7 linked regions of the Homo sapiens genome follow. The protein of the gene in region 5 purifies or fractionates together with the protein of the main gene of each other region. This does not show direct contact. Each region holds a gene or a part of one and is shown on either strand. Other genes may lie near its edges. The genes, in order: CLUAP1, TRAF3IP1, SERPINB12, EIF4B, IFT88, IFT172 and CASP14.

Evidence for each region.
Region 1: the proteins of IFT88 (region 5) and CLUAP1 purify together in Homo sapiens (affinity purification with mass spectrometry; 2 studies listed by BioGRID and IntAct, with this or other methods). This does not show direct contact.
Region 2: the proteins of IFT88 (region 5) and TRAF3IP1 purify together in Homo sapiens (affinity purification with mass spectrometry; one large-scale study listed by BioGRID and IntAct). This does not show direct contact.
Region 3: the proteins of IFT88 (region 5) and SERPINB12 purify together in Homo sapiens (co-immunoprecipitation; one large-scale study listed by IntAct). This does not show direct contact.
Region 4: the proteins of IFT88 (region 5) and EIF4B purify together in Homo sapiens (co-immunoprecipitation; one large-scale study listed by IntAct). This does not show direct contact.
Region 6: the proteins of IFT88 (region 5) and IFT172 purify together in Homo sapiens (affinity purification with mass spectrometry; 2 studies listed by BioGRID and IntAct, with this or other methods). This does not show direct contact.
Region 7: the proteins of IFT88 (region 5) and CASP14 purify together in Homo sapiens (co-immunoprecipitation; one large-scale study listed by IntAct). This does not show direct contact.

Annotation. Positions count from the first base shown.
Region 1 is NC_000016.10:3,525,004-3,528,503, reverse strand, and holds part of CLUAP1 (clusterin-associated protein 1), read right to left. Parts: intron 2,093-3,500; coding exon 2,020-2,092; intron 1-2,019. UniProt on the Homo sapiens protein: Required for cilia biogenesis. Appears to function within the multiple intraflagellar transport complex B (IFT-B). Key regulator of hedgehog signaling.
Region 2 is NC_000002.12:238,393,518-238,397,017, reverse strand, and holds part of TRAF3IP1 (TRAF3-interacting protein 1), read right to left. Parts: intron 1-3,500.
Region 3 is NC_000018.10:63,566,369-63,569,829, forward strand, and holds the end of SERPINB12 (serpin B12), read left to right. Parts: intron 1-238; coding exon 239-643; 3' UTR 644-2,961; downstream 2,962-3,461. UniProt on the Homo sapiens protein: Inhibits trypsin and plasmin, but not thrombin, coagulation factor Xa, or urokinase-type plasminogen activator. May play a role in cell differentiation.
Region 4 is NC_000012.12:53,030,456-53,033,955, reverse strand, and holds part of EIF4B (eukaryotic translation initiation factor 4B), read right to left. Parts: intron 151-3,500; coding exon 1-150. UniProt on the Homo sapiens protein: Required for the binding of mRNA to ribosomes. Functions in close association with EIF4-F and EIF4-A. Binds near the 5'-terminal cap of mRNA in presence of EIF-4F and ATP.
Region 5 is NC_000013.11:20,640,157-20,643,656, forward strand, and holds part of IFT88 (intraflagellar transport protein 88 homolog), read left to right. Parts: intron 1-1,133; coding exon 1,134-1,242; intron 1,243-3,298; coding exon 3,299-3,449; intron 3,450-3,500. UniProt on the Homo sapiens protein: Positively regulates primary cilium biogenesis. Also involved in autophagy since it is required for trafficking of ATG16L and the expansion of the autophagic compartment.
Region 6 is NC_000002.12:27,458,744-27,462,243, reverse strand, and holds part of IFT172 (intraflagellar transport protein 172 homolog), read left to right. Parts: intron 1-407; coding exon 408-485; intron 486-726; coding exon 727-975; intron 976-1,150; coding exon 1,151-1,229; intron 1,230-2,414; coding exon 2,415-2,535; intron 2,536-2,721; coding exon 2,722-2,866; intron 2,867-3,375; coding exon 3,376-3,465; intron 3,466-3,500. UniProt on the Homo sapiens protein: Required for the maintenance and formation of cilia. Plays an indirect role in hedgehog (Hh) signaling, cilia being required for all activity of the hedgehog pathway.
Region 7 is NC_000019.10:15,055,637-15,058,793, forward strand, and holds the end of CASP14 (caspase-14 precursor), read left to right. Parts: intron 1-348; coding exon 349-453; 3' UTR 454-2,657; downstream 2,658-3,157. UniProt on the Homo sapiens protein: Non-apoptotic caspase involved in epidermal differentiation. Is the predominant caspase in epidermal stratum corneum. Seems to play a role in keratinocyte differentiation and is required for cornification.

The sequences.
Region 1 (3,500 bases), on a different chromosome or scaffold from region 5:
AAAAGGGGAGGGCTGCTTTGGCTAGACAGGCCCTTCAAATTTCCTAACCTTGTTCCTGGAGGATTTCCCAGCAGTCCCTATCCTTCCTCCAAAGTTTCCTGAGATTCAGACGAGAGAGTCACAGAACAGGTGCAAAATGAGAGAGATACAAGGGAAATGGCAAAGAAAGAGAAAGAGAGAGAGAGAGAGTGTGTGTGGGAGCATGTGTGTGGGCCTGATGCCTCAAGTATGCTGCCCTCAACATGAGAGTGAATAGAATATTTCACCCTGAAGAAAAGAAAGGGCAACCAGCAAGAGGAGGAGGAACTCCGTGCAACAAGGCCATCAATTCAGCAGGAAGATCCTGGGCTGCTACCGGTCCCTGACAGTGACTTGACACTGAAGTTCAGGGATGTAGGGTACAGCCCCACAGGGTCGGTGGGTTTTCTCCCCATGTGCAGAGATGAGAGACTGTAGAAATAAAGACACAAGACAAAGAGATAAAAGAAAAGACAGCCGGGCTTGGGGGACCACTACCACGAAGACGTGGAGACTGATAGTGGCCCTGAATGCCAGGCTGTGCTGATATTTATTGGATACAAGACAAAGGGGCAGGGTAAGGAGAGTGAGCCATCTTCAGTGATAGGTAAGGTCACATGGGTCACGTATCCACTGGACAGGGGGCCCTTCCCTGCCTGGCAGCTGAGGCAGAGAGACAGAGAGGAGAGAGAGACAGCTTACGCCATTATTTCTGCTTATCAGAGACTTTTAGTACTTCCACTAATTTGCTACTACTATCTAAAAGGCAGAGCCAGGTGTACAGGACAGAACATGAAGGCAGACTAGGAGCATGACCACTGAAGCACAGTATCACCGGGAGATGGTTAGGCCTCCGGATAACTGCGGGCGGGCCTGACTGATGTCAGGCCCTCCACAAGAGGTGGAGGAGTAAAGTCTTCTCTAAACTCCCCCGGGGAAAGGGAGACTCCCTTTCCTGGTCTGCTAAGTAGCAGGTGTTTTTCCTTGACACTGACGCTACCACTAGACCACGGTCCACTTGGCAACGGGCGGCTTCCCAGACGCTGGTGTTCCCACTAGACCAAGGAGCCCTCTGGTGGCCCTGTCTGGGCATAACAGAAGGTTTGCACTCTTGTCTTCTGGTCACTTCTCACCATGTCCCCTCAGCTCCTATATCTGTATGGCCTGTTTTTTCCTAGGTTATGATTGTAGAGCGAGGATTATTATGATATTGGAATAAAGAGTAATTGCTATAAACTAATGATTAATGATATTCATATATAATCATATCTATGATCTATATCTAGTATAACTATTCTTATTTTATATATTTTATTATACTGGAACAGCTCGTGCTCTCGGTCTCTTGCCTCGGCACCTGGGCGGCTTGCCGCCCACACAAGGATAAGGGAAGCTGCCTGGTCACAGAGAGCTCCTTCCCGGAATCTAGGCTTTGCATGGACGTAACCCTGTGTCTCTCCAGCTGAGTGTCTTGCTGAGCCATTCTGGATTATGGGGGGCATCTCAGCAGCATGGGGACCATCACAAAGCGAGCGGCCCCTCTCCCTGCACTGCATCCCAGTGCTTGCTTTCCATCATTCAGCCTGAAAATACAGAACCCTACACACATCTAGGGCCATGTTTTCTTATAGTTACGCATCATATATAATTCAAACTATCATTTAAACAGGGGAAAACACTATCTTAACTGGCACAAGAACGAAATGTGTTTTAAATGCTATATTTAAACCAGACTCTTGAGTGAATACAATGGTACCCAATATAGAAGTTGTGAGAAAACCGCCTTTTGAAAATATTTTTGTACCTATAGTCAACAATAATTTATTATACTTTTCAAAATTGAAGATGTAAAGTGAAGTGTTCTTACTACAGTAAAAAAAAAACTGCTGAAAAAAAGAAGAAAATACATATTAAAAAATATATATATATCTCTCTATATATATTTCAAGGCTGAAAATACTAGTCCAGAGTAAACTGCTCGTCTACGAAGCCCAGCCTTACTTCCACTCTTGAGCAGGCGCTTCTCTTCCTCCTTGAGCTTGTTCTGTATCAGGCAGAGAGTGTTTTTAGCTTCCTGTGGAAGAGGAAATACAGACTCAGGAGAGATGGCCCTTTTCTGGACTGTTCTATTCTTCTTCACCACTGTGTAAGGACTGCTAAGTTTGTGCTACAGAACAAAAAAAGAGCTAAACTCAAGGAAGGGGAAGAGAATTAACACTGCCTGAGCAACTCCAGGGTCCTGAAACTTACTGCCCTTTCTCTCTGCGGTTGCCTCGTGGCCTGGTGGACAGGGGCGCCCAGAGTGAAGCAGCTGCCCCACCCCATGCTTCTCCGATTGCATTTCCCTGCCTCTGAGGAGAACTAAATGCCCATCACGCATGCCTGTATGACCTGGGGACACAGAACAGACACATCTAATTTTAGGGCAGAGACAGGCCTCCTGCTTTCAAAGGAAGAAAGTATAGATTTTATCATTTATCTTTCCTGCCCTGCCTTCAGATTCCAGCTCAAAAGATGCTAAATGGTGGGACAGGTAAGGATGGGAACAGGGGTGGGGACAGGAGGAAATATCTCAGATCATAAAATGTGGCCTTGATTATTATCAAGAAAGAGAATGGGGGCTGGGCGTGGTGGCTCACACCTGTAACCCCCACGCTTTGGGAGGCCAAGGCAGGAGGATCACTTGAGCCCAGGAGTTTGAGACCAGCCTGGGCAACATAGGGAAACCTCATCTCTACAACAAATTTAAAAAATTTAGCCAGGTATGGTGGCAAGTGCCTATAGTCCCAGCTACTCAAGAAGCTGAGGTGGGAGGATCGCTTGAGCCCAAGAGGTCTGAAGCTACAGTGAGTTATAATCACACCCTGCCCTCCAGACAGAGTGGCAGGCAACAGAGTGAGACCCCGTTGAGAAAGAGAAAGAGACAAAGAGAGAGAGTGGGGGGGAGGGACAGACAGAGGGAGGAAGTTGGCTTTATATATTGTTGTTCTAAACATTAAAAATAAAGCACTGTGTTTCCGGCATGGGGTATTTCGAGGGAACAGGTATTCTAACGACAGAGAGCGAGAGTGAGTAAGAGAAAAAGAGATGTACTTGTTGAAGGAAGGGTAGGGTAGAGGGGCTCCCTGGGAAGTTTCCTGGGCCACCTACCTGCCACTCTGAGGCATACTGTTTGGTTTGTTCTCTGAACCCAGAGGTGGCCCCAGATAATACAAAAAAATGGCCAACGTTTCTTTTCACTGCCCTTGACTGTTCTTTCCCAGGTACCCAATGTTTAAAATGTTCTAAACTCCAAGCTCTTTCTAGTGCCCTCGAAATGTGCCTGTCCCGTACCATTTCTCCATGGCCTGCCTCTGCCACAGAGTAATGCTAGCAATGAATTCCTCGTCAAGATGACATGTGTCCACACGGATGCGTTAGGTACTCCCAGTTAGCCCTCCTGGACAACAAAATAGCTCTGCCAAACTCAAATGCTCAGTATT
Region 2 (3,500 bases), on a different chromosome or scaffold from region 5:
AAATGACTTCAAAACCCAGCTTGCCAGGGGGCAAGGGGAAAGAAACCCAAAGGAGAGGCAGAAACTGGTGCCATGGAAAGGAGGGCATGGAGAATGTGCAGGGCAGCCAGCGCCAGCAGCAGCCAGCAGCAGCCAGCAGCACCCAGCAGGCAGATGGTCAGGTCGACTTAGACGTGACTGTGCTGGCCGCTCAGGGAGGCCACAGAGTCCAGGGGTCAGGGGCCAGATGGAAGGGGTCAAGTTGAGACAGCAGCAGGTGAAGGAGGTGAGGAGGACGCAGAGACGAGTGGGGAGCTGCATGCGGTTTGGGCCAGGAGTTCTTGGGTTCTTTGCCATGCAACATTTAGAATTCTCTTCATATGAGCTTTGATCACAGACATCTCTGAATGTCAGAAACTGATGTGAGTTGATAAGAATCAATAAGCTTGGGAAAATTAACATCAGTTCTTTCTCCTTCTTTCCTTTTTTTTTTTAATTTTTTTATTATTATTATACTTTAAGTTTTAGGGTACATGTACACAATGTGCAGGTTTGTTACATATGTATACATGTGCCATGTTGGTGTGCTGCACCCATTAACTCGTCATTTAACATTAGGTATATCTCCTAATGCTATCCCTCCCCCCTCCCCCCACCCCACAACAGGCCCCGGATTGTGATGTTCCCCTTCCTGTGTCCATGTGTTCTCATTGTTCAATTCCCACCTATGAGTGAGAACATGCAGTGTTTGGTTTTTTGTCCTTGCGACAGTTTGCTGAGAATGATGGTTTCTAGTTTCATCCATGTCCCTACAAAGGACATGAACTCATCATTTTTAATGGCTGCATAGTATTCCATGGTGTATATATGCCACATTTTCTTAATCCAGTCTATCGTTGTTGGACATTTGGGTTGGTTCCAAGTCTTTGCTATTGTGAATAGTGCCGCAATAAACATACGTGTGCATGTATCTTTATAGCAGCATGATTTATAATCCTTTGGGTATATACCCAGTAATGGGATGGCTGGGTCAAATGGTATTTCTAGTTCTAGATCCCTGAGGAATCGCCACACTGACTTCCCCAATGGTTGAACTAGTTTACAGTCCCACCAACAGTGTAAAAGTGTTCCTATTTCTCCACATCCTCTCCAGCACCTGTTGTTTCCTGATTTTTTAATGATCGCCATTCTAACTGGTGTGAGATGGTATCTCATTGTGGTTTTGATTTGCATATCTCTGATGGCCAGTGATGATAAGCATTTTTTCATGTGTTTTTTGGCTGCGTAAATGTCTTCTTTTGAGAAGTGTGTGTTCATATCCTTTGCCCACTTTTTGATGGGGTTGTTTTTTTTTTGTAAATTTGTTTGAGTTCATTGTAGATTCTGGATATTAGCCCTTTGTCAGATGAGAAGGTTGCGAAAATTTTCTCTAATTTTGTAGGTTGCCTGTTCACCCTGATGGTAGTTTCTTTTGCTGTGCAGAAGCTCTTTAGTTTAATTAGATCCCATTTGTCAATTTTGGCTTTTGTTGCCATTGCTTTTGGTGTTTTAGACATGAAGTCCTTGCCCATGTCTATGTCCTGAATGGTATTGCCTAGGTTTTCTTCTAGGGTTTTTATGGTTTTAGGTCTAACATGTAGTCTTTAATCCATTTTGAATTGATTTTTGTATAAGGTGTAAGGAAGGGATCCAATTTCAGCTTTCTACATATGGCTAGCCAGTTTTCCCAGCACCATTTATTAAATAGGGAAACATTTCCCCATTGCTTGTTTTTGTCAGGTTTGTCAAAGATCAGATGGTTATCTTCTTCCCTTTCTTTCTTCTCTCTCTCTTTCTTTACAGCCAGGGTCTCACTATGTTGCCCAGGCTACTCTCAAACTCCTGGGCTCAAGTGATCCTCCTGCCTTGCCCTCCCAAAGCGCTGGGATTACAGATGTAAGCCATCATGCCCTGCAACACTGTTTCTTTAGGAAGCCCTCCCTGGACACCCCCCCACCCACTCCAGACCGGTAAGGGGCCCTTCCTTGCCTCACCCACTTACAGAATGAGCTAGTAAATGCACTCAGTTGTAACAAATCAACTTATTTAATTTGAACGTATCATAGCTACATATTCACTTGCATTACTTCTGCTAGTTTCAGACTGTGGGCTCAGGAGGGCAGGACCTTGTGCCTAGATTCACTGTGATTCACATAAGCTCTGCCTAAGAATTTGTGAAATGAACTAATGAAGTGGATAAATGATTTATGTATGAAGATCCTAGTTCCACCATTTACTGGCTTGGACAAGTACAAGAAAGCTTTAGCATAATGCCTGGCACATAGAAAGTGTTAAATAATTGGGACTTTAAGTAAAACGTAAAACTCATACAACTAATAAGTGAGTTCAGCAAGGTTGTAGTATACAAGATGAGCATATGAAAATCAACTATATTTCTATGTATGAGCAATGAAAACATGGACACTGCAATTAAAAATACAATGCCATTGACAATTGTTCAATAGAAGACTATCCTTAGTTGTAAATCTAACAAAACATGTATAGGACTTGGAAATGGAAAACGAAACAATGCAGATGAAAGAAATCAAAGGAAATCTAAATAAATGAGAAGACACACTGTGTCCATGGAATGGAAGACAGGACACAGTAAAGACATGAATTTTCCCCAAACCGATACGCATGTTTAATGCAAATCCTACCAAACTTGCAGCCAATGTTTTTGTATAGACAAGATTATCCTAAAATGTATACAGAAAGGCAAAGGAACTACAATAGCTAAAACATTTTCAGAAAAAGAATAAAGACAGAAATAACCAGTCTACCCAATTTCAAGGCTTTTTTTTGAAACGGAGTCTCACTCTGTCGCCCAGGCTGGAGTGCAGTTGTGTGATCTTGGCTCATTGCAACCTCTGCCTCCCAGATTCAAGCGATTCTCCTGCCTCGGCCTCCCAAGTAGCTGGGATCACAGGCGCACACCAGCATGCCCAGCTAATTTTTGTTTTAGTAGACATGGGATTTCACCATGTTGGCCAGGTTGGTGTCAAACTCCTGAGCTAAGGTGATCCTCCCATCTCGGCCTCCCAAAGTGCTGGGATTACAGGTGTGAGCCACCGCGTAGGCTTCAAGTCTTTTTATACAATTACAGTAATCAAGACAGTGCAGTATTGACAGAGGGACATAGATCAAATGAACAGAACACAGAATCCAAAAGTAGATCCATACGAATATGTCCATATGCCCAAGCAATCTTTGACAAAGGTACAAAAGCAATTTAGTGGCAGAGAGAGCTTTGCACCATTTGGCACTGGGTTAAGTGGACATCCATAAGCCAAAAAACAAACAAAACGTTGACCTAATCTCATATCTTAAACAAAAATTAACTCGAAATGGACTATGGATTTAAATATAATCTATAAAACTTTAAGATAAAAAACACAGGAGGAAAAAGTCTTTGGGATCTAGGACTAGGCAAAGAGTTCGAAGACTTGACACCAAAAGCATGACAAAAATTTCAAATGTTT
Region 3 (3,461 bases), on a different chromosome or scaffold from region 5:
TGAACACTTGTCTCTCAAACACCAGAGCACACTGGAACCTGAGTTGTCCCCTAACTTCTTCTAAAGAGGAAAGATATTTGCTTGAAGTTTTAAATGAAATCAGACTATTCTCTAGCTTAGGGAAAGGTCTTGAAGGTTGTCACTGCCCACTGAAAGGGACTCAGGCACCTTGAAGTAATTGGGGCATTCTTTGTGGTCCCATAATCTGATGCTAAATATTATTTCCTTCCTCTTGTAGCTTGAAAGGAAAATCACCTATGAAAAAATGGTGGCCTGGAGCAGCTCAGAAAACATGTCAGAAGAATCGGTGGTCCTGTCCTTCCCCCGGTTCACCCTGGAAGACAGCTATGATCTCAATTCCATTTTACAAGACATGGGCATTACGGATATCTTTGATGAAACGAGGGCTGATCTTACTGGAATCTCTCCAAGTCCCAATTTGTACTTGTCAAAAATTATCCACAAAACCTTTGTGGAGGTGGATGAAAACGGTACCCAGGCAGCTGCAGCCACTGGGGCTGTTGTCTCGGAAAGGTCACTACGATCTTGGGTGGAGTTTAATGCCAACCACCCTTTTCTCTTTTTCATTAGACACAACAAAACCCAAACCATTCTCTTTTATGGCAGGGTCTGCTCTCCTTAAAAGGGGAGCAGTGTCTAGTACTTTGGAGCTGGAGGAAAATATCAATACAATCTTCCCCTGGCATAAGATGGGCATTTGAGTTTTTGGTAATATCTAAAGCATCTCCTTCATCCTCCAGCCATCGGCTTGTGCTTATCTTGATCTTTCTGTCACCCTGTAGCTTATTTTCATCTGAGTCTGTTAGTATTGAAGGGCTGTTGTTCTCTACCCTAAACTTTCAAGCATATAAATTCACCCTCTGTGACCTGAAGGTCAACACAATTCAGAACAGTACCTACCTCCTTTTGAAGGAATCCTAAAAGTTCAGGTCATTAGACCATTTCTAAGAGATGGCAAACTCAGAAGCCACTTTAACATGGGCAGCAAGAGAACATGTTTGACTGGAACGTGTTTGGAAACTCAGCTCTGTTTCTGGGGTAGTTTGACCGGAACGTGTTTGGAAACTCAGCTCTGTTTCTGGGATAGTTATGATTGTGGTCATCACTGGGCGAGATGCCCTGTTTCTTCCTTTGACAGCTACTGCATGGAAGATGTCCTGTGAGGTCTTTTCACCTAGGACAAGGCAGGGCTTGGGCGTATTTAAGTGATAGCTCAAAGATGTGTGACTGCCCCAACCAGCACTCATTTTGCACAGAGCAGGGGAATGATATTTGTCTTGTGATTTTGACACTGACCCAGGAAAGTGGCTAGTGGATTTAGAGGAGGTTTATCTCAGTTTTCCTTATTGAGTCCCCCAACATTATCATCAAACACTTCCCTCTGTCTCTCCTCCCCCTAGCTCCAAGAATTCCCACCTGTGGCTAGCTCCTTTTATGCACCCAGCACAGGCAGGTGTCAAGAGAAGTGCTGCTGGCATTGTGGACGGCTGGCCTCCGTATGCCCCTCTCTCTGCCTTCTGGCCACGTGGAGGCTGGCCTCTGTGTGCCCCTCTCTCTGCCTTCTGGCCACGTGGAGGCTGGCCTCCGTGTGCCCCTCTCTCTGCCTTCTGGCCACGTGGACTTTTGTGTCTTCCGAGAGGTCTCATGCCAGACCACATGGTGACAACAGGCTTGAGCCTGGGCATGGTGTCCATAGCAATGCTTGTTGGCTGGGCATGATGGCTCATGCCTGCAATCCCAGCACTTCTTGGGAGGCCGAGTCAGGTGGATCACTTGAGTCCAGGAGTTCGAGACCAGCCTGGGCAACATATTGAGACCCTGACTCTACAAAAAATACAGAAATTAGCCGGGCGTGGTGGTGTGCACCTATAGTCCCAGCTACTCGGGAGGCTGAGGTGGGAAGATCACTTGAACCCAGGGGATGGAGGCTGCAGTAAGCTGAGATGGCGCCACTGCACTCCAGCCTGGGTGACAGAGCGAAACCCTGTCTCAAAAAACAAACAAACAAAAAACCCAAAAAGCCAAAACAAAACCTGAAACCCTTGTCAAGAAGGCCATTGGGCTCATCTCAAGCTCTAGTCTACTGAAGGCCTGACCTCTGAGTGTTCCTACTCGCGGACTCAGGGCCTCTGTTCTCTGGTGTGGTAATCTGAGTTCCTAATTTCTATCTTAGCTGAATGTTCTGCCATGACCACTGACACGTCCAACTCACATCTCTTTGGAGTCAGTCTCTTTCCTATCGAGGTGGGTTTCAGGTCTTGCTTGCGGCTCAGTTTCCTTGGCCCACCTTGTGGCTGTCCTCCTCCCAGCTGCCACCAGTCGTTCAGTGTGGCCACGCAGTTTTTTTGCAGAAGGCAGGTGAACCACACCTGCTCCCATGCTAGCCTCCTCTTCCTTTTCTCACCTACCCCAGTGATTTCTTTGTGCTCTGAGAGACAAGTTCCATGTTCTCCATACAACCTTCTCATTGTTGAAGCTCACTTACGACCTAAAACAATTTGACGTTGGTAACGTGAGGCAGTTTGAGGCAGTGCCCTATCCAGAATGCATGTCCCATGGGTCAAATTAATTTCAGATAACCAAAAACTTCATGTCCCCTGTGGTTCCTTTTGGGGTTGACGTTTTGGGGGCTGTTTCCATGTCTGACTTGGCACCACTGCCCGACACGTAGCTGGAAACCATGACCTATATATAGGCCTGCACTGCCCGGCATTTCTTTTGTTCTTATTCTTTTACTTGGTAAACACATTTTTTTTTCATTTACATCGGGATTTCTCAGATTTTGAAGCATGAGAGGGAGAATGTATCTATTTACAATAATGAGGAAAATTAAGAATCTTAAATCTTTATGTAAATCAGTAAACATTCTTTACTAACCTTTGATTTATTAAGAAGTTTCTTCTGAATGAATAAAGCACTTTTGTTATTAGTTAAAATATATACGATGTGTTGCCAACTGATTTTTTTAGGGATATAAATTTAACTTCAAACTGTTTCATCCAAAAATATAAAAATACATAATCTATGAAACTAACAATTCATCTCAGTTACACAGGAAAAATACATCTTGCCCCAGTAATAGTTTCTCCCAGCTTTCCATCATAATTACATATGAAGGCATATAAAAAAGATGAAAACTGACAATGCTAAAACCAGAGTGATAGCCAGCTGATCATCAGAATATAGAAGACATTTCTGCCGACTACAGGTTTTTCTTTTTTTTTTGTTTGAGATGTAGTCTTGCACTGTTGCCCAGGCTGGAGTGCAGTGGTGCAATCTTGGCTTACTGCAACCTCTGCCTCCTGGGTTCAAGTGATTCTTAAGCCTCAGCCTGCTGAGTAGCGGGATTACAGGCGCCCGCCACCACGCCCAGCTAATTTTTGTATTTTTAGTAGAGAGGGGGTTTCACCATGTTGGCCAGGCTGGTCCTGAACTCCTGA
Region 4 (3,500 bases), on a different chromosome or scaffold from region 5:
CTACTTCTCTTTCTCTAGCAGCTGTGTCAACAGGCTTTGCCCCTCCAAAGATAGAAGCAGCTCGAGTGGACTGGGAGGTACTAGCAGAGGAATCATCTTCCTTAGGAGTACTCCGAGGCTTTAGATTCAGTTTGGGTCTTTGGGGGGGACCTAAGTTAAATGAAACTTTAAGTAATAGTTTTCCAATCACCAGAAGCTGATGGCTGAAAGCCAGATTTCTCAGATATAACTCCTATGAAATGCTACATGAGATTCAAGTTAGTGGCCTAACCAATCCACAGAAGGCAAATAGATCATTAGAAAACAGGTAGTTTAGGCTGGGCATGGTGGCTCACGCCTGTAATCCCAGCACTTTGGGAGGCCGAGGCGGGTGGATCACAAGGCCAAGAGATCGAGACTATCCTGGACAACATGGTGAAACCCCGTCTCTACTAAAAATACAAAAATTAGCTGGGCGTTGGGGCGCGCACCTGTAGTCCCAGCTACTCAGGAGGCTGAGGCAAGAGAATTGCTTGAACCTGGGAGGCAGAGGTTGCAGTGAGCCAAGATCGAGCTACTGCACTTCAGCCTGGTGACAGAGCAAGGCTCCGTCTCAAAAATAAAAAAAAGAAAAAAAAAAAAGAAAATAGGTAGCTCAGGCTGGGCGTGGTGGCTCACGTCTGTAATCCCGATACTTTGGGAGGCCGAGGCGGGTGGATCACCTGGGGTCGGGAGTTCGAGACCAACACAACCAACATGGAGAAACCCCGTCTCTAGTAAAAATAAAAAATTAGCCAGGCATGGTGGTGCATGCCTATAATCCCAGCTACTCGGGAGGCTGAGGCAGGAGAATCGCTTGAACCTGGGAGGCAGAGGTTGTGGTGAGCCAGGATCGCACCACTGCACTCCAGCCCTCCAGGCTGGAAAACAAAAGCAAAACTACGCCTAAAATAAATAAATAAAAATAAATAAAAATAAAAATAGGTGGCATAAATAACCAAGTTCTGGCCGGGCGCAATGGCTCACGCCTGTAATCCCAGCACTTTGGGGGGCTGAGGCGGGCGGATCACCTGAGATCAGGAGTTCGAGACCAGCCTGACCAATATGGAGAAACCCCATCTCTACTAAAAATACAAAATTAGCCAGGAGTGGTGGCACATGCCTGTAGTCCCAGCTACTCAGGAGACTGAGGCAGGAGAATCGCTTGAACCCACCGGGGAGGCGGAGGTTGCAGTGAGCTGAGAACACACCACTGCACTCCAAACTGGGCAACAAGTGCCAAACTCCATCTCAAAAAAAAAAAAAAACAAAAAAACCCAAGTTCAATTACTCTTCTACCACATCCATGATGTAGTACAAGACCACAGGAAAGACTAAAAATGGTAAACATTTAAGTAATAAATTAATAATCTATCAAGACTTCTTTTATATGGGAAGAAATTTTTGACCATCATTAAACTACTGGATGAAAGTATCTTGCTCCGAAATCTGCATGTTAAGAACTAATACAATATGATAGGGAAGATTCTAGTTCTTTATTTTTTTTGAGACAGTCTCGCTCTGTCACCCAGGCTGGAGGGCAGTGGTGTGATCTCAACTCACTGCAACCTCTGCCTCCCTGATTTTCCTGCCTCAGCTTCCTCAGTAGCTGGGAGTATAGGCACGTGGCACCATGCCCAACTAATTTTTGTATTTTTAGTAGAGATGGGGCTTCACCATGTTGGCCAGGCTGGTCTTGAACTCCCGACCTCAAGTGATCCGCTTGCCTTGGCTTCCCAAAGTGCTGTTACAGATGTGAGCCACCACGCCCAGCCAGGAAGACTCTAGATCTTATACCCTTGTCTCTGTGTATAATATAAATTTGGCAGGTGGTTCATGGGGCAAAGCATGTAACACTGAACAAATAAACTCTTAAGGCAGGCAGTCTGATTTCTTCCTCAATTCAAGTTGTCAGAACACTTTCAAGAGAAACCTAAGTGTTTCAAGGAAGTTAAATTTCTAAAAATGATTGTTTGTCCTAAATATTTTGGATATACAAAAGATACAGAGAATATAAAGAAAGCCTATGTATACAATCACCTGGCTTAAGTAATGTAACCTTAACAAAGAGGTAAAACCTCCTGATGACATGACCAGCTGTACTCTGTCCTCTAAATAACCACTAGATGGTGACTTCATCATGCCCACACTTGATTTTATACTTTTACTACATATGCACATAGTACCTGTAGATAGAGGGTACTGTTTAACAAGATCTAAATTTTCTACGAGGGCTTTAAGCCGACAGTTTATATATGTTCCTAAACATATTTTAAATCTGTGTTATAGCCCCGTCACTTTTGTAAGATAAAATAGGGGCTCAGAAAAAGTAGCTCATTTAAGATATTAATAAAAGAACGCAGCCGGGCACAGTGGCTCACGCCTGTAATCCCAGCACTTTGGTAGGCCGAGGGCAAGTGGATCACTTGAACTTGGAAGTTTAAAACCAGCCTGGGCAATGTGGAGAAACCCCATCTTTAGAAAAAATATCAAAATTAGCCAGGCATATGGCACGCACCTCTAGTCCCAGCTACTGGGGAGGATGAGGAAGGAGGATCACTTGAGCTCAGAAGGCTGAGGCTACAGTTAACCATGATTATGTCACAGCAATTCTAGCCTGGGCGACAGAGTGAGATCCTGTCTCAAGAAGAAAAAAGTAAAGGCTGGGCAAACAGTGAAGGCCCGTGTATGTCAGAGGTATAGAGAAAGGGCTATGTTCCAGGCCATGGGGAAACTAGACAGGTCTAAACAGGAGAATAAGGTAATTAGATCTTATGCCAGAAAGACAACTGACAACTGGGGCCAATGTGAAGAACGGAGCAAGAAAGGGAACTCTGTTAGGAGGCAATGGCCAGTAACGTGGGTGCAGCAATGAGGCCTCAACGAAGGTAGCAGCAGCAACTAGAGACAAGAGGGCAAATCTTAGAGGGAATGGGGGGGTAAGAGCAAGAAGAGAAATAAAAAATTAGGTATGCAGCTCTTGGTGGGGAGGTAAGGGACAGTGTGAGAGAGGAAAAGGTCAGAAGTCAAGGAGAACATGAGGCCCACATCTGAGCCTCCACTTTTCTAACTTGTAATTTTACCTATACCACACAGAAGTCTTAGAATTAAACAATACTTGTACAAGCCCTCAGCTCACTGATGGAACAGAGTAAATGGTTAATAAATGTTAGCTATTATTTTTAGGCTTCTTGCTTGAGGAAATCGCTTTTAAGAACGTAGTTTTTTCACTGGGCGCAGTGGCCCACGCCTGTAATCCCAGCACTTTGGGAGGCCGAGGCGGGCGAATCACAAGGTCAAGAGATCCAGACCATCCTGGCCAACATGGTGCAACCCCGTCTCTACTAAAAATACAAAAATTAGCCGGGCGTGGTGGCAAGCCCAGCTACTTGGGAAGCTGAGGCAGGAGAATCACTTGAACCTGGGAGGCAGAGGTTGCAGTGAGCCGAGATCGCGCCATTGCACTCTAGCCTGGGCAACTA
Region 5 (3,500 bases):
CTTAACTCAAGATTATAAATCATTTTTCTGTATTTTCTTTTCATACTCTTCTTATAGCTTTGTTTTTTCTGTTGAGTTTCAAAATTTTGAGTTCATTTTTTATGAAATAAGAATCTACATTTAAAAAAATTAATGGCCAGGTGTGGTGGCTCATGCCTGTAATCCCAGCACTTTGGGAGGGCCAAGGCAGGCGGATCATGAGGTCAGGAGATCGAGACCATCCTGGCTAACACAGTGAAACCCCGTCTCTACTAAAAATATAAAAAATTAGCCAGGCGTGATGGCGGGCGCCTGTAGTCCCAGCTACTCAGGAGGCTGAGGCAGGAGAATGGCATGAACCCAGGAGGCGGAGCTTGCAGTGAGCCGAGATTGTGCCACTGCACTCCAGCCTGGGCGACAGAGCGACTCCGTCTCAAAATAAATAAATAAATAAATAAATAAATAAATAAATAAATACAAATTAATGTATAGTCAGTTGTTCTGGCACCACTTATTACTAGCACTTTCCTCCCCACTGATTTTAAATGTCTTTAACTAAACTCTATAGTTGAGTGCATTTCTGAACTGTTTATTCTGTTCTATTGGTCTGTTTGTCTATTCCTGCCCCCTACCACACTTTTAAAATCACTGAAGCTTTGTAGCATCTTTTGGTGTCTGCCAGTGGAGAATCCCCACCCTAACATTATTCTTTAAAAAAATCCTCAGTTGGCCGGGTGTGGTGGCTCATACCTGTAATCCCAGTACTTTGGGAGGCTGAGGCAGGTGGATCGCTTGAGGCCAGGAGTTCCAGACCAGCCTGAGCAACATGGCAAAATCCCGTCTCTACTAAAAATACAAAAAATTAGCTGGGCGTGGTAGCACGTGCATATAATCCTAGCTACTTGAGAGGCTGAGGTGGGAGAATCACCTGAGCCTGGGAGGTCGAGGCTGCTGTGAGCCATGTTTGTGCCACTACACTCCAGTGTGGGCAGCAGGAGTGAGACCCTGTATCAAAAAACAAAAACCTGAGTTCATCTTCATTTTCTCTTCTGGATAAATATTTTCATATATTTTGAGATTTATTCTGTTATGTTAAATAAATTAATACCAATAATGATACTTATAGATTTTCTTTTTTTTCTTCTTTTTTTAAGGCCTTACCTATGAGAAACTAAATCGGCTAGATGAGGCTTTGGACTGTTTCCTGAAACTTCACGCAATCCTACGAAACAGTGCCGAAGTTCTTTACCAGATAGCAAATATGTATCTTATTTGAAAACCTTAGGGACAGTTATTAATTCTCTCAATTGGTGATTGAAGATCAATTATTAAATAAGTTTAACTAATGAAGTAATTGATGAGGATAATATTTGAAGTAAGTGATGAGGATAATCTGGCAGATTATTGTGTGATAAATATCATTTGAGTAATCCTATTTTAAGATGTAGTTTGCATCGAAAGAGGAATTAATGGTTAAAACTATTATTTATTAAATTTTGAAAATAACTGAAGTAATTAGGACATTTTCGGTACATATAAGCCATTCATTGAAAGTCAATTTGGTGCTTTAGAACGTTGTATTAATTCTGAAGCTTGTAGGGTATCATTGAAGCACTAACTTACTAAATAAAATACTGTTTATTACTGATTACTATTGATTGAATTTGGATAATTTTTCTTACTTTTTTAGCTGGCCTGTAGATATAATGAGGTCTCCAAAGACTGTTACCCTCTAAAATTATGTAATTCTTCATATGAACTCATTCATTCTGTTCATTTAATAGTCATTTATTGAATGTATACTATGTGTATCAGTATTATGTTTCAAACTCAGGGGAATGTAGAACTACAAAATGTTGCGCTAATATCAGTTTCTTCCACAACACTTAGCTTTCTTAATAAGCCCTGCTCTTGGTTAGAAAAGCAGAAATGTGTTAATGTTTTTAATGCTTTTCATGCTATTTGAAAAGCACTTTTAATTTCTCTCCTTATTTTGGTAAGCTTTGGCCACAACATTGGGAAGAGTTAAACATCTTAGGTAGATTTTCAACTTACTGTTATCTTGGTTTAAATTTTATACAAATATGTTTAGAAAATTTTATATGTTGTGAGGTGTACCATTAATAATTTTAAGTACTATCTGCTGTACTTTTGATAAAGAATTTTATTGAAAAATTTTAGTTTTAGGCCAGGCACAGTAGCTCACACCTGTAATCCCAGCACTTTGGGAGGCCAAGGCAGGCGGATCATTTGAAGTCAGGAGTTCGAGACCAGCCTGGCCATCATGGTGAAACCCCATCTCTACTAAAAATACAAAAATTAGCCGGGTGTTGTGGCAGGCACCTGTAATCCCAGTTACTCCCGAGGCTGAGGCAGGAGAATCACTTGAACCTGGGAGGCAGAGGTTGCAGTGAGCCAAGATAGTGCCACTGTACTCCAGCCTAGGTGCAGAGCTAGACTATCTCAAAAAAAAATTAGTTTTAGAGCAGATAGCATCATAGTTACTCCTGTTAGTCTTTTTGTTCTGTTTTGTTCATTTAATTTCTCTGAAACTGCCAGTGTCATTATCTTTTACCACCCAGTTCATGATCAGCTTGGATCCAGTCAAGCAACTGATGTATTTGAGACTGTTTGAGTACATTTTCTTTTTTTTTTTTCTTGTGGTATCACACTTGTCATCGTTAAAAACAGTAGATCTTCTGGTGTCACTCTTGTCACCATTGAAAACAATGCTTCTTTTTCAATAAACTTTGAATTGGAATATTTTCATTTCACTGAGATATCTAATATGTATAAAATAAATAGTAATTAATCAAAAAGTACTGATATGAATAAATTATTTGTATATACACCGAAGACTTAGTAGGTACTAAAAGGAAGCTACAAAAAAAAAAAAAAACAACACTGTCCTTGGGTTTATAATCTAATTAGGGAAAACTCACAGGAAAAACACATGGAAATAATTTCCTTAATATGCTGAACATGTTAAGAAAAAGAATAACTGGATGCAACATTCAGGACATTTTTATTAAGGACAATTTTTGGACAATACTTTGAATAATTCTACCAGAAATTTGGGAGTTGATCTTAGTGGATAGTAATGGAGGAAAAGGGAAAGCAGGCTATATACATAGGGAGCAAGAGTGTTACCTCCACAGTACTGCTGCATTCCATCTCCACCCCTGAGATATCCAGAGGAAACAGTATACAATAGCACATTACTGTAGGCTAAGAAATATTGTTACTGTAATGTTTTTTAAGTTTGCTTATTGCTTAATGAATTTAGAAAACATGTTTTCCTTAACTGACATTGCATAAGATATGAATTAATGGAAAATCCCAGTCAAGCTATTGAATGGCTAATGCAGGTGGTCAGTGTTATTCCAACCGATCCTCAAGTTTTATCTAAGCTAGGAGAATTATATGATCGTGAAGGAGATAAATCTCAAGCATTTCAATATTACTATGAGGTAGGTGTGTTATCTTAATTTCCTTCTGTGTTTTAGCATTTTATGAATTGT
Region 6 (3,500 bases), on a different chromosome or scaffold from region 5:
CTGGCCACATGGTGAAACCCCATCTCTACTAAAAATACAAAAAATTAGCCAGGAGTGGTGGCACACGCCTGTAATCCCAGCTACTCGGGAGGCTGAGGTGGGAGAATCGCTTGAGCCAAGGAAGCAGAGGTTGCAGTGAGCCCGAGATCACACAACTGCACTTCAGCCTCGGCAACAGAGTGAGACTCCATCTCAAGAAAAAGAACAGTTGCCTTGGAAAGGGTGTGTGCAAATAAGGAGCCCTGAAGCTTAAGCTTCTTTTAGTTTCCCAGTATTTCTGTTGGTATAGTAGTTAAAAGGCTTTTGGTCCTCATGGGCTGGCATCTTAGCCAGGCTGAGGAGAGCTTGCTGCTTTCTGATCCTCATATCTTTCTGGTGTCCCTCTCTGCTCTGCCTGTTTCCCCTAGAATGCTGTGGAGGAGGCCATGGGCATGTACCAGGAGCTACACCGTTGGGATGAGTGTATCGCTGTGGCTGAAGCCAAGGTACCTGTTTTATCTTCTCCACAGTTGTTCAGAATTTGGTTCTGCCAATTTCAAAAACCTCCTTTTGTCAAGGAGGCCATAGAAACCAGAACAGGGTTGGGGCTTGGACTTGATGTGGTGAGGAGTTAGGATACTGCTGACCCAGGAGGATTCCCCTTGTTATAGAGGGATTGGAGAAGCATGGGAGGCAGAAGGGTAGGAAGGGGGATGTGACTCCTAGTTGTCCTCTGTGCATGTCCAGGGGCACCCAGCCCTGGAGAAGCTACGTCGTAGTTACTACCAGTGGCTGATGGACACACAGCAAGAGGAGCGAGCAGGTGAACTACAGGAGAGCCAAGGGGATGGGCTAGCAGCCATCAGCCTCTACCTCAAAGCTGGGCTCCCTGCCAAAGCTGCTCGGCTGGTGCTGACCCGAGAGGAACTGCTAGCCAACACAGAGCTGGTAGAACACATCACTGCAGCCCTTATCAAGGGGGAACTCTACGAAAGGGTATGCTGGCTTCCTTTTCCTAGCCCTTATCTCCAGAGCTCAGGACCCTTCCCTTACCCAGAGGAGTCTTGGGGTGCAGAGCGCTTCCTGACTGCTGGTGTTCCCTTGTTTTCGGAGCTAATACTTAGTTCTTTGTGTTGTAGGGGTATCATAGTAATGTGGTATGTGTTAACAGGCAGGTGATCTCTTTGAGAAGATTCACAATCCACAGAAGGCCCTGGAGTGCTACCGTAAAGGCAACGCATTCATGAAAGGTACTAGCCACCTATAAGCCATCCTTTACTGTTGTGGACTCTTGCCCATCTGGTTCCCTGGCACCTCTTGTAGGGGTGGGTTGCCCCTACACACCTGTGGGTGTTTCTCGTAAGGTGGGACGAGAGATTTGGAAAAGAAAAAGACACAGAGACAAAGTATAGAGAAAGAAATAAGGGGACCCGGGGAACCAGCGTTCAGCATATGGAGGATCCCGCCAGCCTCTGAGTTCCCTTAGTATTTATTGATCATCTGTGGGTGTTTCTCAAAGAGGGGGATGTGTCAGGGTCACAAGACAATTGTGGGGAGAGGGTCAGCAGACAAACACGTGAACAAAGGTCTTTGCATCATAGACAATGTAAAGGATTAAGTGCTGTGCTTTTAGATATGCATACACATAAACATCTCAATGCTTTACAAAGCAGTATTGCTGCCCGCAGGTCCCACCTCCAGCCCTAAGGCGGTTTTTCCCTATCTCAGTAGATGGAGCATACAATCGGGTTTTATACCGAGACATTCCATTGCCCAGGGACGGGCAGGAGACAGATGCCTTCCTCTTGTCTCAACTGCAAGAGGCATTCCTTCCTCTTTTACTAATCCTCCTCAGCACAGACCCTTTACGGGTGTCGGGCTGGGGGACGGTCAGGTCTTTCCCTTCCCACGAGGCCATATTTCAGACTATCACATGGGGAGAAACCTTGGACAATACCTGGCTTTCCTAGGCAGAGGTACCTGCGGCCTTCCGCAGTTTTTGTGTCCCTGGGTACTTGAGATTAGGGAGTGGTGATGACTCTTAAGGAGCATGCTGCCTTCAAGCATCTGTTTAACAAAGCACATCTTGCACCGCCCTTAATCCATTCAACTCTGAGTGGACACAGCACATGTTTCAGAGAGCACGGGGTTGGGGGTAAGGTTATAGATTAACAGAATCTCAAGGCAGAAGAATTTTTCTTAGTACATAACAAAATGGAGTCTCCTATGTCTACTTCTTTCTACACAGACACAGTAACAATCTGATCTCTCTTGCTTTTCCCCACACCTCTTGGTGCGTGTGTTCAGGATGCCTGGCTCCAGTCCTCCATTCCTCCCCTTCTTACCTATTCTCCATGCTTCATCTCCCTGTCCTACCTTTTTCCTGAGGCCCATCCCTGGAAATCTGGGCTGAGCATCTTTTCTCTCCCTGGCAGCGGTAGAGCTGGCTCGATTGGCCTTCCCAGTGGAGGTGGTGAAACTAGAGGAGGCATGGGGGGACCACCTGGTGCAGCAGAAGCAGCTTGATGCAGCCATTAATCACTACATCGAAGCCAGGTATGGGAGTATGGGAATGTAAAGGAGATTTAGGTGTGAAGTGAGGGGCAGTGGAGCAAGTAAGGACACCAAGGCCTTAAAGAAGAGATCTCAAAATGTAGGTTGAAGTGTGCTTAAAGGGTCCTTTTACCTCCATTCATCTTCATCTTTCATCCTACATATTTATATCTTTCCCAACTTTGCCAGGTGCTCCATTAAGGCAATTGAGGCCGCCCTGGGTGCCCGCCAGTGGAAGAAGGCAATTTATATATTAGATCTACAGGACCGGAACACTGCATCCAAATACTATCCTCTCGTGGCCCAACACTATGCATCCCTGCAGGAGTATGAGGTGAGGAAGAGTCCCTTTCCGCAGCACGAGGCAATGCAGTAGAGGATAACAATGAGAGAACCCAAAGCAGGAAGTGGAGGCAAGTTCACCAGATCCTTCTTTCTGGGCTCCAAACAGCATCATCACCTTGAAGGGGAAGAGAACAGTTTACTTTCCCATTTTCATTCCAGTGTGACACAGATATCGCCCTTCACCCCAGATATATAAAGTGAGTCTCTAGCTGTGTTCCAGTCAGCGTGATTCTTCATGAATAATGCTAACATAGTTATGATATAAAATTGCTTTGCATTGCAGAAATGTGAGGCCCTTTTGGATTCCACTGTTTGGGGCTGGTCTTTCTTTTTAAATGGTAGAATGTATGAGACACCCATACTCATCTTTTCTTCTCTATTATTACAAGGTTGTATCGCAGGCTCTCCACCATCCCAGCCAAGGTTTGTTCTTTCCTCATTCAAGCTGCTTTAAGTCTGTTGCTCTGACCTTTTGTATCTACCTCCCATCAACTACAGATTGCTGAGGAGCTCTATACTAAGGGAGATCGGACAAAAGATGCCATAGACATGTACACCCAGGCTGGTCGTTGGGAACAAGCCCACAAGGTAGGGATGGGTGGAGTTCATGATAAGAGAACTCT
Region 7 (3,157 bases), on a different chromosome or scaffold from region 5:
AATCCAAGCCAGATCTCAATACAGAAACTAAGAAGCCCACTTTCCAACAACTTTCCCAAATGCAGGGACTCTTAAAAGCCACAGTATGGGAGATAAATTTCTATAAACAAATCCCCCTTGGATATAAACAATGTTTGGGCAAACTGTTTTCTTTTAATGTTTATATGTTTTTATTGCAAATTATTTAAAAAATGCCCAGCCAAGGATTCCATACAAACTATGGTATAGGAAGAGGCCACAACGGTCTCTCATCTTAGGACAAGAATACCCACCTGCCCCGTTCCCTAACCCTCCCCCCATAAGTCCATGACACTGACTCCTCCAAGCTCACCACACCTGTTGCTGCAGGTGACCCGGCGGATGGCAGAAGCAGAGCTGGTTCAAGAAGGAAAAGCAAGGAAAACGAACCCTGAAATCCAAAGCACCCTCCGGAAACGGCTGTATCTGCAGTAGAAGTAGAAAGACCAGGAGGAGCTTTCCTTCCAGCATTCTTTCTGTCTCACAGAAATTTAGAGGCAGCTCTTACCTCTCCCCAAGATCTTCTGTTCCCAAGGCCAAATGGCACCCAGTTTCTTTTCCATCACACCCTTCATGCAGGTCCTCCTGTCCTTATTAGAGCAAGCCAGCCAAAACTTAGCACAAGGCATGGTGGCAACATTAACATCACCTCCCTCAGGCTGGACTTTCTATCTTTATTAATGCAACCGAAGAGACCTAAGAGTGCATTCACTTATCCCACTTTCTGTTCCTGTGGTCTTCTTTCTCCCATGAAGCAGAAACTGGATAAAGCTCAAGATTTTCCATAGACAAACCAAAGCCCACTCATCCCCTCCTACCCCAATCCAACCTCTGCTGGCTCCTGCATCTCACTTGGAGGTCAAACCTCCTCCTGAGGCCAATGCATTCCCAACTTCCAGTTCTTTCCTTTACCCTGGAGAGTTAGTAAGGTAAGAACCATTCTTTCTCTCCAAAACCACTCCTCCTTGGCTGGCAAGTTGGTGTCCTAACTCCGTTCTCTTCCTAGCTCATGGCCTCTCTAGATAATAAAGTTGTCTCCTCCTTTCTGGATCTCTTCCTCCTAACACCCCTCCCCTGAAACCCTGGACTCTGCCCTCTCTCCAAGAAAATCCATCTATTCAACTATTCTTGCATTCAATTACTCTAAATGAGAGCGTGTTGGAGCTATGGCAAATTCCCTGTTGTCACCTTGCTATTTTGCAGACAACATAATATTTAACCTCTCATAACCAGAGAGGTTAAATAATTTGTCAAATGCAATACAGTAAGACAGAGGCAAGGACAAGGTTTGACTTCCAGCCCAGCCTCTTTTCCACAACCTGCTAAATCCTGATCCATCTGAAAACTTTTCTAATTAGTGAAGATGACTAATAAAAATTTTCCCTATCTCCAAGGTAGGAGCTTTCTGGAAGTTTCTAGAAATTTTCAATAACCACCAGCCAAGGTTACCTCCAGGTAACCTTGCAGCACCAGGCTGGAAGTCAGATCGGCTTCACTATCTTCCAACTCTACAGCCTGTATCTCTCCATCCCCAGCTTTGACCTTTCCTGCTCAAGTAACCTACGGGCACATCCAGCGTCACTAAAAACTCAGGGCTTTTCTTCCCGGTTACTCCTCCAAGCGTTCCCTGGTATCCTCAACCTCAGATCCCAGGTTCAGATTTCTGCAGTCAATCTATGACCCCTCTCTTCTTGCATCCTTCATATGCCACCAGACACCATGCCCAGTCCAGCCTGATTTTGAAACAACTTTCATGCCGGTCTTCTCTTCCCTGACATGTTACTGTCCAGGCTCAAGTCCTCAGCTTCTCATATCTGCATCTTTGCAACCAACTTCCTCCCTTGCCTCTCTGCTTTTCCATCCCACTTTTCATGTGTCCTCCATACCATCTATAACAGTGATCTCCCTGGAACACTCAAGAAGACACAACATACCATATTATTTAAAGACCAGGGTACTGGACAGTGGCTCACACCTGTATTCCCGACTTTGAGAGTCTGAAGCGGGAGGATCACTTGAGGCCAGGAGTTAAGAGACCAGCCTGGGCAACACAGCAAGACCCTGTCTCTAAAAAAAAAAATTAATTAACTGGGTATGGTGGCACATGCCTGTAGTCCCAGCTACTCAGGAGGCTGAGGTGGGAGGATGACTTGAGCCCAGGAGTTTGAGGCTGCAAGGAGCTATGATCATGCCAGTGCATCCCAGCTCTAGGTGAGACAGTGAGATCCGGTCTCCAAAATAAATCAATCAATCAAATAAAGACCAAAGTCAAACCGCACATCAGGATCTCTCACACCCTTCCAATTTTGCCATCTACCAGCACTTAGCTAAACCCATCTCCCATCTCTTCCACCATGAATTCACTCTTTCAAAAAGGCTAATGTCTTCTTACTCACCCTTGCCTCTAAGCCTTTGCTATCACCATTTCCCCCAAGCTGGAGGGCCCTCCCTCTCCCTTTACCCCTCTTCCACTACCTCCCACCCCTACTTTTTCCAGAAAGCCATTTCCTCTCTTTTTTCTGATTGATCCTTCCCTCTCACCCAGGATTAGATGCTGGAAATGACCACTTCTGGAGGGCAGGGAACAAGCCCTTAATCTGCATAATGAGTGTTCAATAAACAGTTGTCAAACTTTGAAAGAAAGTGTTGAAATCTTTGTTCTGTGCTGAAACAGTGAGGCTGATACAAAAGGAGTTATGGATTTAATTTCTTTTTTCCCAGTGGCTGGCTTCCTCCCAGGTGTGTCTATCATGAATGGAGAATCAGGAGCTTCAGCCTGTGTCTTCTTTCCTTTTTTTTTTCTTTAAGAGATGAGATCTTGCTCTGCCACCCAGGCTGGAGTACAGTGGCACCATCATAGCTCACTGCACCCTCGACCTCCTGGGCTCAAGCAATCCTCCCACCTCAGCCTCTCATGTAGCTGGGACTACAGGTGTGCATCACCACACCTGGCTAATTTTCTTATTTTTCGGTAGAGATTGGGTCTTGCTATGTTGCCGAGGCTGGTCTCACAGTCCTGGTCTCAAGCAATCCTCTTGCCTTGGCCTCCCAAAGTGCTGAGATTACAGATGTGACCCACCACACCGAGCTCCTGTCTCTTTCACAAAAACAGACGTGTTGGGAATTTGTAAAGTTACAG